3 linked regions of the Homo sapiens genome follow. The main gene of each other region encodes a partner of the protein of the gene in region 3 in a complex. Each region holds a gene or a part of one and is shown on either strand. Other genes may lie near its edges.

What was found.
Region 1: URI1 (region 3) and RUVBL1 share a complex: the UniProt entries of both Homo sapiens proteins name them as parts of the PAQosome complex.
Region 2: URI1 (region 3) and DNAAF10 share a complex: the UniProt entries of both Homo sapiens proteins name them as parts of the PAQosome complex.

Annotation. Positions count from the first base shown.
Region 1 is NC_000003.12:128,096,110-128,099,861, forward strand, and holds part of RUVBL1 (ruvB-like 1), read right to left. Parts: intron 2,837-3,752; coding exon 2,773-2,836; intron 1,390-2,772; coding exon 1,191-1,389; intron 1-1,190. UniProt on the Homo sapiens protein: Possesses single-stranded DNA-stimulated ATPase and ATP-dependent DNA helicase (3' to 5') activity; hexamerization is thought to be critical for ATP hydrolysis and adjacent subunits in the ring-like structure contribute to the ATPase activity.
Region 2 is NC_000002.12:68,136,871-68,140,622, forward strand, and holds part of DNAAF10 (dynein axonemal assembly factor 10), read right to left. Parts: intron 1,988-3,752; coding exon 1,872-1,987; intron 564-1,871; coding exon 429-563; intron 1-428. UniProt on the Homo sapiens protein: Key assembly factor specifically required for the stability of axonemal dynein heavy chains in cytoplasm.
Region 3 is NC_000019.10:30,008,192-30,011,943, forward strand, and holds part of URI1 (unconventional prefoldin RPB5 interactor 1), read left to right. Parts: intron 1-813; coding exon 814-1,162; intron 1,163-2,902; coding exon 2,903-3,045; intron 3,046-3,752. UniProt on the Homo sapiens protein: Involved in gene transcription regulation. Acts as a transcriptional repressor in concert with the corepressor UXT to regulate androgen receptor (AR) transcription.

The sequences.
Region 1 (3,752 bases), on a different chromosome or scaffold from region 3:
AGCATGCAGCCTCAGGGACTTTGTCCCCACACTACTCTATTGCAGGCTTGAAAACAGGCCCCTCATCACCCACCTTTGTGCCCCCAGCACTGCAGAGACCAGGCACTAATGTTTAAACAAGATCACAGAAAACCAAAAGAGCAATAAAACTACCAGGTACTGGGAATACTGACACTGGGCTTGAGAGATGGGAAGATGGGGTGTTCTCCAGGACCACGAGCGTGGAGAGTGCTTAGGAGAAAAAGCAACCGCAGGAAAGTTCCTGGCCCAGCTTTGGGCCAATCTTGGCAGGATGAGCACCGTATGAACACTTGTCTTCCAGGGGTCAACATCTGCCCTTCCCAAAGGCAGGCCAAAGGGATGGGAAAGAGTGGAGCGGGAGGATGGAAAGACACCAGTGTGGTTCAGAGGTCTGGGATAGAAAGAAAATGCTGGGGCCGGGCGTGGTGGTTCATGCCTGTAATCCCAGCACTTTGGGAGGCTGAGGCGGGCAGATCACGAGGTCAGGAGATCAAGACCATCTTGGCTAACACGGTGAAACCCTGTCTCTACTAAAAATACAAAAAAATTAGCCAGGCGTGGTGGTGGGCAACTGTAGTCCCAGCTACTCGGGAGGCTGAGGCAGGAGAATGGTGTGAACCCGGGAGGTGGAGCTTGCAGTGAGCCGAGATCGCGCCACTGCACTCCAGCCTGGGCGACACAGTGAGACTCTGTCCCCAAAAAAAAAAAGAAAGAAAATGCTGGTTTTGTTATCAGAAGGAGCTGGGTTCTTATCCTGTCTTTACGATGAGGGACAAGTTATGATTCCAGTTTCCTTATTTGAAAAATGACGCCAATAATGCCTACCTCTCAGAGCGCAGATGAAGACTGAAGACGTTCATGTGTATAATGTCATCAAAGGCTAGCCCTGTCTGATCTCACCTTTGTACACTCCAATTGAACGACCAAATTGTAGTATCACACCCAAAAGATCACGTGGGAGACCCTCCTCATGAGTGACAGGACAGCTGCTGCCTTTGGTGACTAGGGAAATGAGGCCAGAGGCAAGCCACTTGGCACATTTTCCCTCAAAAACAACATGACCTCCCCTCATCCCTGTCCCACCTCATGGGGTTTGGAGAGATCCTGAGGAACAAATGAGCCCAGATGGAAGTTAAAAAAGCCTTGTGGCTGGCAGGCAGCCATCCTACCTGATGACACAGTTGCCTCGGTTGGATGCAAAGATGACGATGGGAGCGATAGAAGACTCCAGGGCGCGGTGCAGGTAGGTGAAGCACTCAATGTCCAGCATGTGGACCTCATCAACAAACAGCACACCCGGGACCAGCTCAGCAATGCCCTGGTCGATGTACTTGTTCACCACCTTATTAATCTCCCCTCGAAGTTTGTCTAGGAGATGCAAGGATGGGCAGGCAAGGTCAGCACAGGGCTGGGGGAGACTATCGCCTTTTCTCCTCCACCTGAATTCAATCCAAACCCATGCTAGGAGCCTAGTTTTCCTACTAGCTATGTGATCCCAGACAGGGTGTGTCCCCACTCCAGGTTTCAGTGTCGTCATCTGAACACAGTGATAATCACACCTAAAAGGTCACAAAATTGGCAGCCTCCCCCAAAAGATGAGTTTGGTTAAATGTAAAAAGGTTGCACAGGTGTTCTGCATGGGAATCCCTTCACAGCACACGCTCACTGCTGTCACACTCCCTACCATGCCTTATCACTTCCCACATACCCAATCTAGCTCTGTCTGATCTGGGAGACATTGGAGTTTGGGAGCCCTGGGTGAAATGAGTTTTCACATGCAAATTTACCTGTTCTATACTCAGTAAATGACCCTTTCTTTTGGTCCCATACAACAATGCTTAGGTTAATTAACTTTCAATCAAGTGCCTGGACTAAGGAAGTGGGTGCTTTTAGAATCCTGAGCAGAAACCTTTGAGGAATGAAAGGCTCTGAAGAAAGGCCCAATCTCAGAGCTCCTAGAGGGATGAGTCTCTCAAAAGTTACATAACCCAGCTAAGGTCTCAGTGCTCATTTTCCAAACCAGCTCCTGTGTTATCATCAGGAGGGAGCAGCTCACAAATAGAAAACTGGAAGATCTGAGGCAGCGTCTTCCACCAAAGGCAAGAGGCGGGGATTGTCCAAAGAGGATGCACACCGAAAACCGTGTGAAAAGAAAGAAACTGCTTCTGACAACTCGAACAGAAAGGTCTCAGATTGCTGCCCTGGCTTAAACTTTAAAGACAATATTTGCTTTAATGTTTAACTAACATCTTAAGGTGACGAAACTGTAGGTGGAATTAGAAAAAAAACAGCAACAGGAAAGCTGGGAAGAGCAGCAGGTTAAATAAAGGTTCACAGGGGAGCAGCAGCAGTGTCCCCTGTGGAGCTCTGGGAAGTGCCCACAAACTGGGCAGGGCAGTATGTGGAGCTGGTCTGTGGAGCTGCCCTGTGCTCTACTAGGGAGGGGGCTGACAGCCCCAAGGCTCCAGAGCCTGTGCTCCAGCAGAGCTGGGCGACACAAATCCCTATTTCTGGGGCCTCATAGGGGCCAGAAACTGTGACTGCAGTGGGGCAGATAGCACACAGTGTGCTATATGGCTGCCTAAATGCCGCCAGAAACTTAGGCTAGAGTCAAGCTCTAAGCTATGAGGAAGAAAGAACTGTTCTGAGGCATTTCCTCAGGGCGACTGTGCTCACAGAGCCGCAAGAGCATCTCAGAATGTGGGGCCCTCCGCCCTGCCCCTTGCTCACAGGGCACACTGGTTCTCCTACCTGTGATTTCTGTCTTCTTTGGCTTCATTAGCTGGCCCATCATGGACAGGATATCTTGTCCCCCCTGCATAAGAGAAGACTTAGAGTCAGTGCTGCTTTCTAAGGTGACTACAGAAGCCTCATCCCCCTGCATCCCACTCATCAACTCAACATGGGATCCTGAGGTATGGAGACCCCTCCTCAAAGCCTGAGGAGCTTCTAAACACAGAGGAATTTTTAGAGGTTCCCCTAACCTGTAAGAATCAAACAAAATCCTTTCATGGCAAGTATAAGCTCCGTGGGGCCTGCCCAGCCTCCTTTTCCAGCCCTATCTTTTTCCAACCCCTTGTTCCTTGATTAGCCACACAAGACTACCAGCCCTGCCCTGGACACCCCCAAGCTTTTTTATGACTCAATGCTTTTGAGTCTATTCCATCTGCCAGGAATGCCATTCTCCTTCCTAGAAGTTCCCAGTCATTAAAGTTCACGTCAAATGCCCTCTAGGGCGCATCTGACCCTAACCGGACTCAGGACTTCCTCCAAATGTTCCTGTGCCTTTGGGGACACATGGACTATAAGAGTAAGTATAAAGAGCAAGTATAAATATACCATGATTATATTGCTGTGCCTCCTCTCACTAGATTTGACCACAGGCTTGCATCAGCCTAGTCCTTACTTAACTTGGAGCTGATCATGGCTGACTCCATAACAGGTTCACCACTCACCTGCATCCTCCTGCGGGCTCCTAACAGTGCAGTCAGCAAGAGGAAGAGGCTGGTGTTTGGTCATTTATTCAGCATTTAGTGATCACCTGTTGGTTACCAGGCCCTGAGACACAGAAGGGCTCACTAAATGCTGAATAGCTAAAGGCAGCAAATGTTTCCTGTCTGGTCCTCAAAACTGCCTTGCCAAGTAGGAGGGAACTCAAAACCGAACCCCAAACCACAGAAAACCCAGAGACCCAAAGTGACAAATTAACCAAGCTGGTCAGTGATGGAGCA
Region 2 (3,752 bases), on a different chromosome or scaffold from region 3:
AATAATTTCATTTAATATAGCAAACTGGAATATAAAACAAAGTGTAATGAAATGACATCATGTACATATAGTTTATTTTGAAAAATATATAACCAGGTATTAGCACAAATATTATATACTTATTAGGAAACACCAGGCTGGGTTTTGTTGATCAAATTCCTAATATCAGCTAGGTTTCTTCTAATTGCTCCTAAACTACAAAATAAGATTCCTACCTGAGATCTTTATTATAATCAAGAAGTCTAAAGTTGATAAACTTTGGGGAAGTACTCTTTGCACAGAAAAACTTGTCAAGATCTCACAGGAATATATCAAAAATAGCTCCCTTCACATAAAGACCTGGAAGAAACCTTGGTGACTAATTCTACTTATCAGTCTAAACCAAGCTATCATTCTTCTTCATAGAAAGACATTTCCCTCATATTTACCTTTTCTGAAACAGAGGCAAAACCTTTGGTTGGATGCTGTGTTCTCATGTCAAAAACATGGAACTTTCCTTCCAGAGATGTGGCTACTAACTTATTCATACTTATGTCTTTTCTGTCAAACTCCAAGCTACACACCTGAAAACAGAGAATACTTATTATTGGTAGTCTCACCAGTATTACTCAGGAGGCTCTTTTATACTAAGTAAAACAGCTTTAAAATGGTCAGATAATGTGAAAGCACTCCAACAATCATTTATCTTTTAACTTTTCCCATAAAAATTTTTTTCCAGCCAGGCGCGGTGGCTTATGCCTGTAATCCCAGCACTTTGGGAGGCCAAGGCAGGTGGATCACGAAGTCAGGAGATCAAGACCAGCCTGACCTACATGGTGAAACCCTGTCTCTACTAAAAATACAAAAATTAGCCAGGCGTGGTGGCGTGCGCCTGTAGTCCCAGCTACTTGGGAGGCTGAGGCAGGAGAATTGCTTGAACCCGGGAGGCAGAGGTTGCAGTGAGCTAAGATCATGCCACTGCACTCCATCCTGGGCGACAGAGTGAGACTCTGTCTCAAAAAAAAAACATTTTTTTTTTTTTTGGCCAGGCACAGTGGCTCACGCCTGTAATCCCAGCACTTTGGGAGGCCAAGGCAGGCAGATCATGAGGTCAGGAGATTGAGACCATCCTGGCTAACACGATGAAACCCCGTCTCTACTAAAAAATATGAAAAATTAGCCGGGCATGGTGACAGGCGCCTGTAGTCCCAGTTACTCGGGAGGCTGAGGCAGGAGAATGGCATGAACCTGGGAGGCAGAGCTTGCAGTGAGCCAACATCGCGCCACTGCACTCCAGCCTGGGCGACAGAGCAAGACTCCATCTCAAAACAAACAAACAAACAAACAAACAAAAAACCCATTTTTTTTTTCCATTAGTAAGATCAACAAAACAATCTTGGGTTCCCATGCTCAGTGAATGCCTTTGGGGAATCATTATTTAACTTTTTACATTATTTAACAGTTAAGTAAAGGCTAACAGTAGAAAACAGGAGGAAACCACATTCTTTGCTAAAGGTGCACAACTAAGGAACCAAAAATCTGAGCTGGGGAGGTGACTACTGTTTCAGGCTTTCTGATATTGGCATAAAAAGACCTTTTACTTGCTTATTTTGAAATCTTACTACATGGCCCACAGGGGTCTGCAGACAGGCTGAAGGGGCTGGTGACTCCCCCAACGCTGTGCAAACCACATGTGGGTGTGAGCTCATTTTCTGAAGAGAGGATCCAGGATTTTCATTAGATTCTCAAACGGATTTGGCCTCAAAAAGTTAAGAACCGTTGGCAGAGGGGTTGACTCAGATGAGTTACTAGAGGTGTTTTCCTTTTGTAATAGTTCAGAGGTGAATGGAAACATGCTCAGAGAAACCAAAAAGCCTCAGAATGTACTTTACCCCATTTTTGATGTTTGTCTCCCACCGTAATGCCATATTTCTGAGATCAAATAGTTTGATATCCCCATTGTCATAGCCAGCACAAACAACACGTTCTTCTTGATTATAAGCATTGCCTGGAAATCAAGATACAACATTTCACATCCTTATAAATGCATCCTTATAAAGGCTGCTTTAAAAAAGTCTTATGAAACTAACATAAAACTTATATTAAATCAGATCTTAAAAATCACACTGGGTAGTATCCCATCTTACCAATCCTGAGAGGACATCAAGATTATTAATGTGGTATCCATTAGTTTTTTGTTTTGTTTAAATTTCTGATAAGAGTTTGGATATTTGTCCCCCCAAATCTGATGTTGACGTATGATCCCCAATGTCGGAGGTGGGGCCTGATGGGAGGTGCTGGGTCATGGGGCTGGATCCCTCGTGAATGGCTCAGTGCAGTCCTTATGGTAATGAGTTTTCGCTCTTCTAGTTCATGTGAGGTCTGGTTGTTAAAGAGTCTGGCACCTCCCTCCTCCCCTCTCTCTTGCTCCCTCTCTCGCCATGTGACATGCCTGCTCCCCTTTTGCCTTCTGCCATGAGCAGACAATTCCTGAGGTCTCACCAGGAGCAGATACTGGCACCATGCTTCTTGGATACTCTTGCAGAATCATGAGCCAAATAAAACTCTTTTCTTTATAAACTACCCAGTCTCAGGTATTCCTTTATAGCAATAAAGCAATTCAATGCAAAGCAGACTAACTAATATAAGCTCATTCACTGTAATTCCATACTGAAAGGATATGTGAAAGTGTTTATTGAATTCAATTTAAATAAAATGCTTTATAGGAGATCGAGACCATCCTGGCTAACACAGTGAAACCCTGTCTCTACTAAAAAAAAAAAAAAAAGAAAAAAATACAAAAAATTAGCCGGGTGTGGTGGCAGGCGCCTGTAGTCCCAGCTACTCGGGAGGCTGAGGCAGGAGAATGGCATGAACCTGGGAGGCAGAGCTTGCAGTGAACCAAGATCGCGCCAATGCACTCCAGCCTGGGCAACAAAGCGAGACTCTGTCTCAAAAAAAAAAAAAGAAAAGAAAATGCTTTCTACTATATCTGCAAAGGCTAGCAGGCCAACTACAGCTCAAACACAAAGGGGTCTCAGAGAATAAATACAGTTATACCTCTATTGCTTTCTTGGCAGTAACTATATTTGAATGCAAACAGAAACTTTAAAACTAATTTATCTTGAAAAATGTTGCTCTGGTGTGATTCCATCTTTACAAGGAAATCTGAAATAAGTTGTAGCACACTGTGACATATTTTTAGTAGTGTGGATGATCATACCTGAAGTAAGTTTATAATCTGTGGTTAAACTCATCCTCCTGGAATTAATTCAAGGATTTTTTTCCAAGTATCTCTTGCTGAGGAAAGAGTGTTAAGTGAGAAGGAGGCCCCTGTCACTGTGCTATGCTATCTGGGCATCCTATCCCAATGCTTTCATTGCCCCTAACTTCGTTTTTCTCATAAACTCCAGCCCTGCATTTCCACTGTGGGCCCCACCTAGATGGTACACCATCATCTTAAACTCATGATGTCCCAAAATGACCTTACCATTTTCCTTTACAAATTATCCCACCCCTTGTATAATTTTTTCAATTAATACCATCATTCACCCCACAATCAGCCTGAAAACTCAGTCATCTTGGACATTATCCTTTTCTTTGTTCTTCATATCCAAAAACATTCCCAAATTCTATGTATTCTGCATAATATTATCTTCTGAATCATCCACTCTGCTCCCTTCTCAGTGCTTGTAACTTAGGTCTTCCCTGGAATACTGCAAAGAGCTCTTGAACTCATATTCTCTGTACCACTCATCACTCCCGCTAAATAC
Region 3 (3,752 bases):
CACTTAGAATTGTTAAAATGCTAAATGAAATCTGCTACTCGAGAAGTTCTATATTATTTTGCTTAAATGATGTACCATATGCAATAATTAGTTTCTGTGAAAAATAGGGCAGGAAGCATAAAAGTTTCTTTTTCCTAGTGTTTCACCTATAAATTCTTAGGTCTTTTTGATTAACTAATACTATTCATTTTTTAAAACCAGTTTTGGATCTTGTGATTTTTCTTGGTCATGATTCTCTTTCTATTTTTTGTATGATGTTATTTCAGTTCTGTTGCATTTTCAATTTTGTTATTTTTGTAAGGTCCTCACATCTTTTATAGAATCAAGTATGATAAATGTTCACTCATGCATATAGATATATTCGTGTGCATATGTATAAATCCTTTATTTTTAAAAATTACAATAATACATGCTCATTGTAAAATATTCTGAGTATAGGAGTAGAAAATAAGTGTGTATTATGTGGTTTCAATTTCTGGTCTTTAGAGATAAATGTTCTCTGAATTTCTTACAACTTTATTATTATTGATACTATATTTATATTGCATATGGCCAATATCTTTCTTGCAAAGATAAAAAAATTATCTTCTATATTCTACTTATGTCTGAATAACCTCAATATATAGAAGCAGCATAGGAACTGTTTTTTGTTAATTTATTTCAAAACATTTTTTTGTTTTTGAACTTAGAATTCTAGTTTTAAAAATACTTTATTCAAGATCTTAGTATTTACCCATGGAAACTAACTGGAAATTTAAATAATGTAAAATTCTAGTATGTTTGTTTGATCTTGTTAATTTTCTTCCTTGCTAGTAAGCCTGATACTGTGATTGCAAATGGAGAAGATACGACATCTTCTGAAGAGGAAAAGGAAGATCGTAACACAAATGTGAATGCGATGCATCAAGTAACAGACTCTCATACTCCTTGTCATAAGGATGTTGCAAGTTCAGAACCATTCAGTGGTCAAGTGAATAGTCAGTTGAACTGTTCAGTGAATGGTTCCAGTTCTTACCACAGTGATGATGATGATGATGATGATGATGACGACGACGACGACAACATTGACGACGATGATGGTGATAACGACCATGAGGCTTTAGGGGTTGGAGATAATTCTATACCAACAATATATTTTTCACATACTGTTGAGCCTAAGAGGGTTTGTATACTTTTAACTTTACTAATTTTGCATATAATTTGAACATTAAGCATTATGATATTTTTTAGAAGAGCAATATTAACAATCATTATCATTGTGGATAGTGCCAGACAGGAAAATCATCTTTTGCCTCTTGTTCTGACCAATTTAAGAAGAAAAAGGGAAAAAAAATTTAGTTAGCTGGTATTGGTCCATTGTTCTCTGAAACAATGCATTGTTTGGGGTCTGGAAGGGGATCAGATTTGAGTGGCAACTACTGTAACTTCACCTGTCCTTCATTCAGAGAGTTTTCTTAAGAATCCTGGAGTTAATTATATTGTGGACATTTTGGTGTGCTTAGGATGTTGAAAGTGACTGCATTAGTTAAATTTTTAATTATGCCAGGTTGTTTTCTATGGACATAAAATGAATACTTCATAGGCACAAAGGGAAAATGTAGGAGGAAGTAAAAATTAGTTTCTTTTCTGACAAAGTAAATATAAACATCTGTGGATAATCATGACTTAGAATTTTGGCATTTTAGAGCTGGGGGTGACTGGAGATTTTCTAATACAGAGTTTTAAAGCTTTTCTCTAGTATGAAAAGCCTTTTGTTCCCTCCATACTTACTGTAGAATCCCAGTATTTAAAATAGATCAAAGCAGCTTGGCTCTGATTGAAGGAAGGATAGGCTGCCTTAAGTCCATCTTTGCCCTCTCTCTGCTCCATGTACTGCTCTAAGGGGACACTGGGAATTCGTCTAATTCGTCTTTCTCAGGGAAATTTAAGGCCTAGAAGACATAGATCTGGTTGGTAACAAAACAGGAACTCTTTCGCCTCTGAGTGCCCTTTCTACACAATATCCCGATTGCCTGTATCAGTTAAGGGTCTGTGGTATCATTCTTAAGTGTGTGTGATTATTATTTAGTGAAATATGTTTAAAACATATTTGATATTTCTTAGCTTCCTAAAGTTATTCCTGCTCCTATATGAAGTGAAATAATTGTTTGTGTTTTTATATTCTAATATGTCAGACTGAAGGGGTCTTCCCCTGATTCTTCGGGAAAAGTTGACTGAGATGATTAGCCAGAAAAAAAGGTCGCTTTTTAATCTTTTGCCAGGCTTTTACTTTTTTCCTGTTTTCATTTAGATAAAACAGAAAGAACAAATATTATTTGCAGGAACGTTACAGGTAATAGTGGTCATTATTGTGGAAAGTATGCTCTAAGTGCTGACTAGGGATAGAAAAATAACATGTTAACCCCATGTGAACCCTGAACAGGCTTGGTTTTTATTTTTTTACTCCTTCAATTTCTAAAAATTAGAGATGTTTTAAAAATTCTAAATAGGCATTATTTAATAGTACTTTTATGACTTAAAGGTTGTATTCTTACTGAATTTTTGTTTATACTCTTTCTTTTGAAATACATAATTCAAGCCAAACACTTATATCAAAGGAATGGGGTGATGGGAAGTTTATAAGAAATCTAGCATTTAGTTCAAATGTATTTTGCTTTCTCTACAATAATAAAGACACTGAAGACTAGGATTTGTTAATAAAGAAGATTTTCTTTAGATGTCATAGATCTATGAGATAAGGACTTTTTAAAAAATTCCATCTGATAATGCACATCATTTCAGCATCAGAAAATTTCAGCTGCCTCTCTTACTATTATTTTTTTAGTTATAGAGTTTATTTGTTTTGGTTTCACTTTGATTTAATTTGTCAAAAGATTCTTAATTTCTTGCTCTGAAATTTTAGGTCCGAATAAATACTGGAAAGAATACCACTTTAAAATTCAGTGAAAAGAAAGAAGAAGCCAAACGTAAACGAAAGAACAGCACTGGCAGTGGCCACTCTGCCCAGGAGCTGCCGACCATCAGGACGCCTGCAGACATTTACAGGTGGGAGGCGCTCACAGCTGCAGGGCAGTCTGCTGGGCTTGCCTCTCTTTCTGCCACTGAACCTTTACTGGAGAAAGTTGACTGTAACACAGAAGACCCTCACTGAAAAGTGAAGTGTTCTGAGGAGTTAACTTAGGATCTGATAGGCTGACCGGCTGTAGCTTCCCAGTCCAGAGCAGTGGGAATGGAGGATTTTTTTTTTTTTTCACTTTCTCCTCTTCACCAGTGCTTTTGAAACATTTCCAAATGGTCTAGTCAGAAAATCTTGTATCTTCAGAAAGCATTTTTGTTTCCAGTGGGCTAGGTCCCTACGTTTCTACCACAGCCGTAACATGCTTGGCATGCAGTTTACCTTTTCAGAGTAGAAATTATACTGTTGCAGGTTTTTTTTTTTTTTCCTTTTTTTTGGAATTGTTTGTTGAGAAAACTATCACTTGAAAATACCTACTGTTTTTATGACCCTTATTTATAAATCAGTGAAAATTGCTAAATGTATACGTGGGTCTAAAACTTTATGTAGAATTTTGGCAAACCATGCTATTGCCACCTAGGACATGCTTAAAAATAACATGCTGTGTTTTTGTTCTCACTCATAGGTGGGAATTGAACAATGAGAACACTTGGACACAGGGTGGGGAACACCACACACCGGGGTCTGTCATGGGGTGGGGGGAGGGGGGAAGGATAGCATTAGGAGATACACCTAA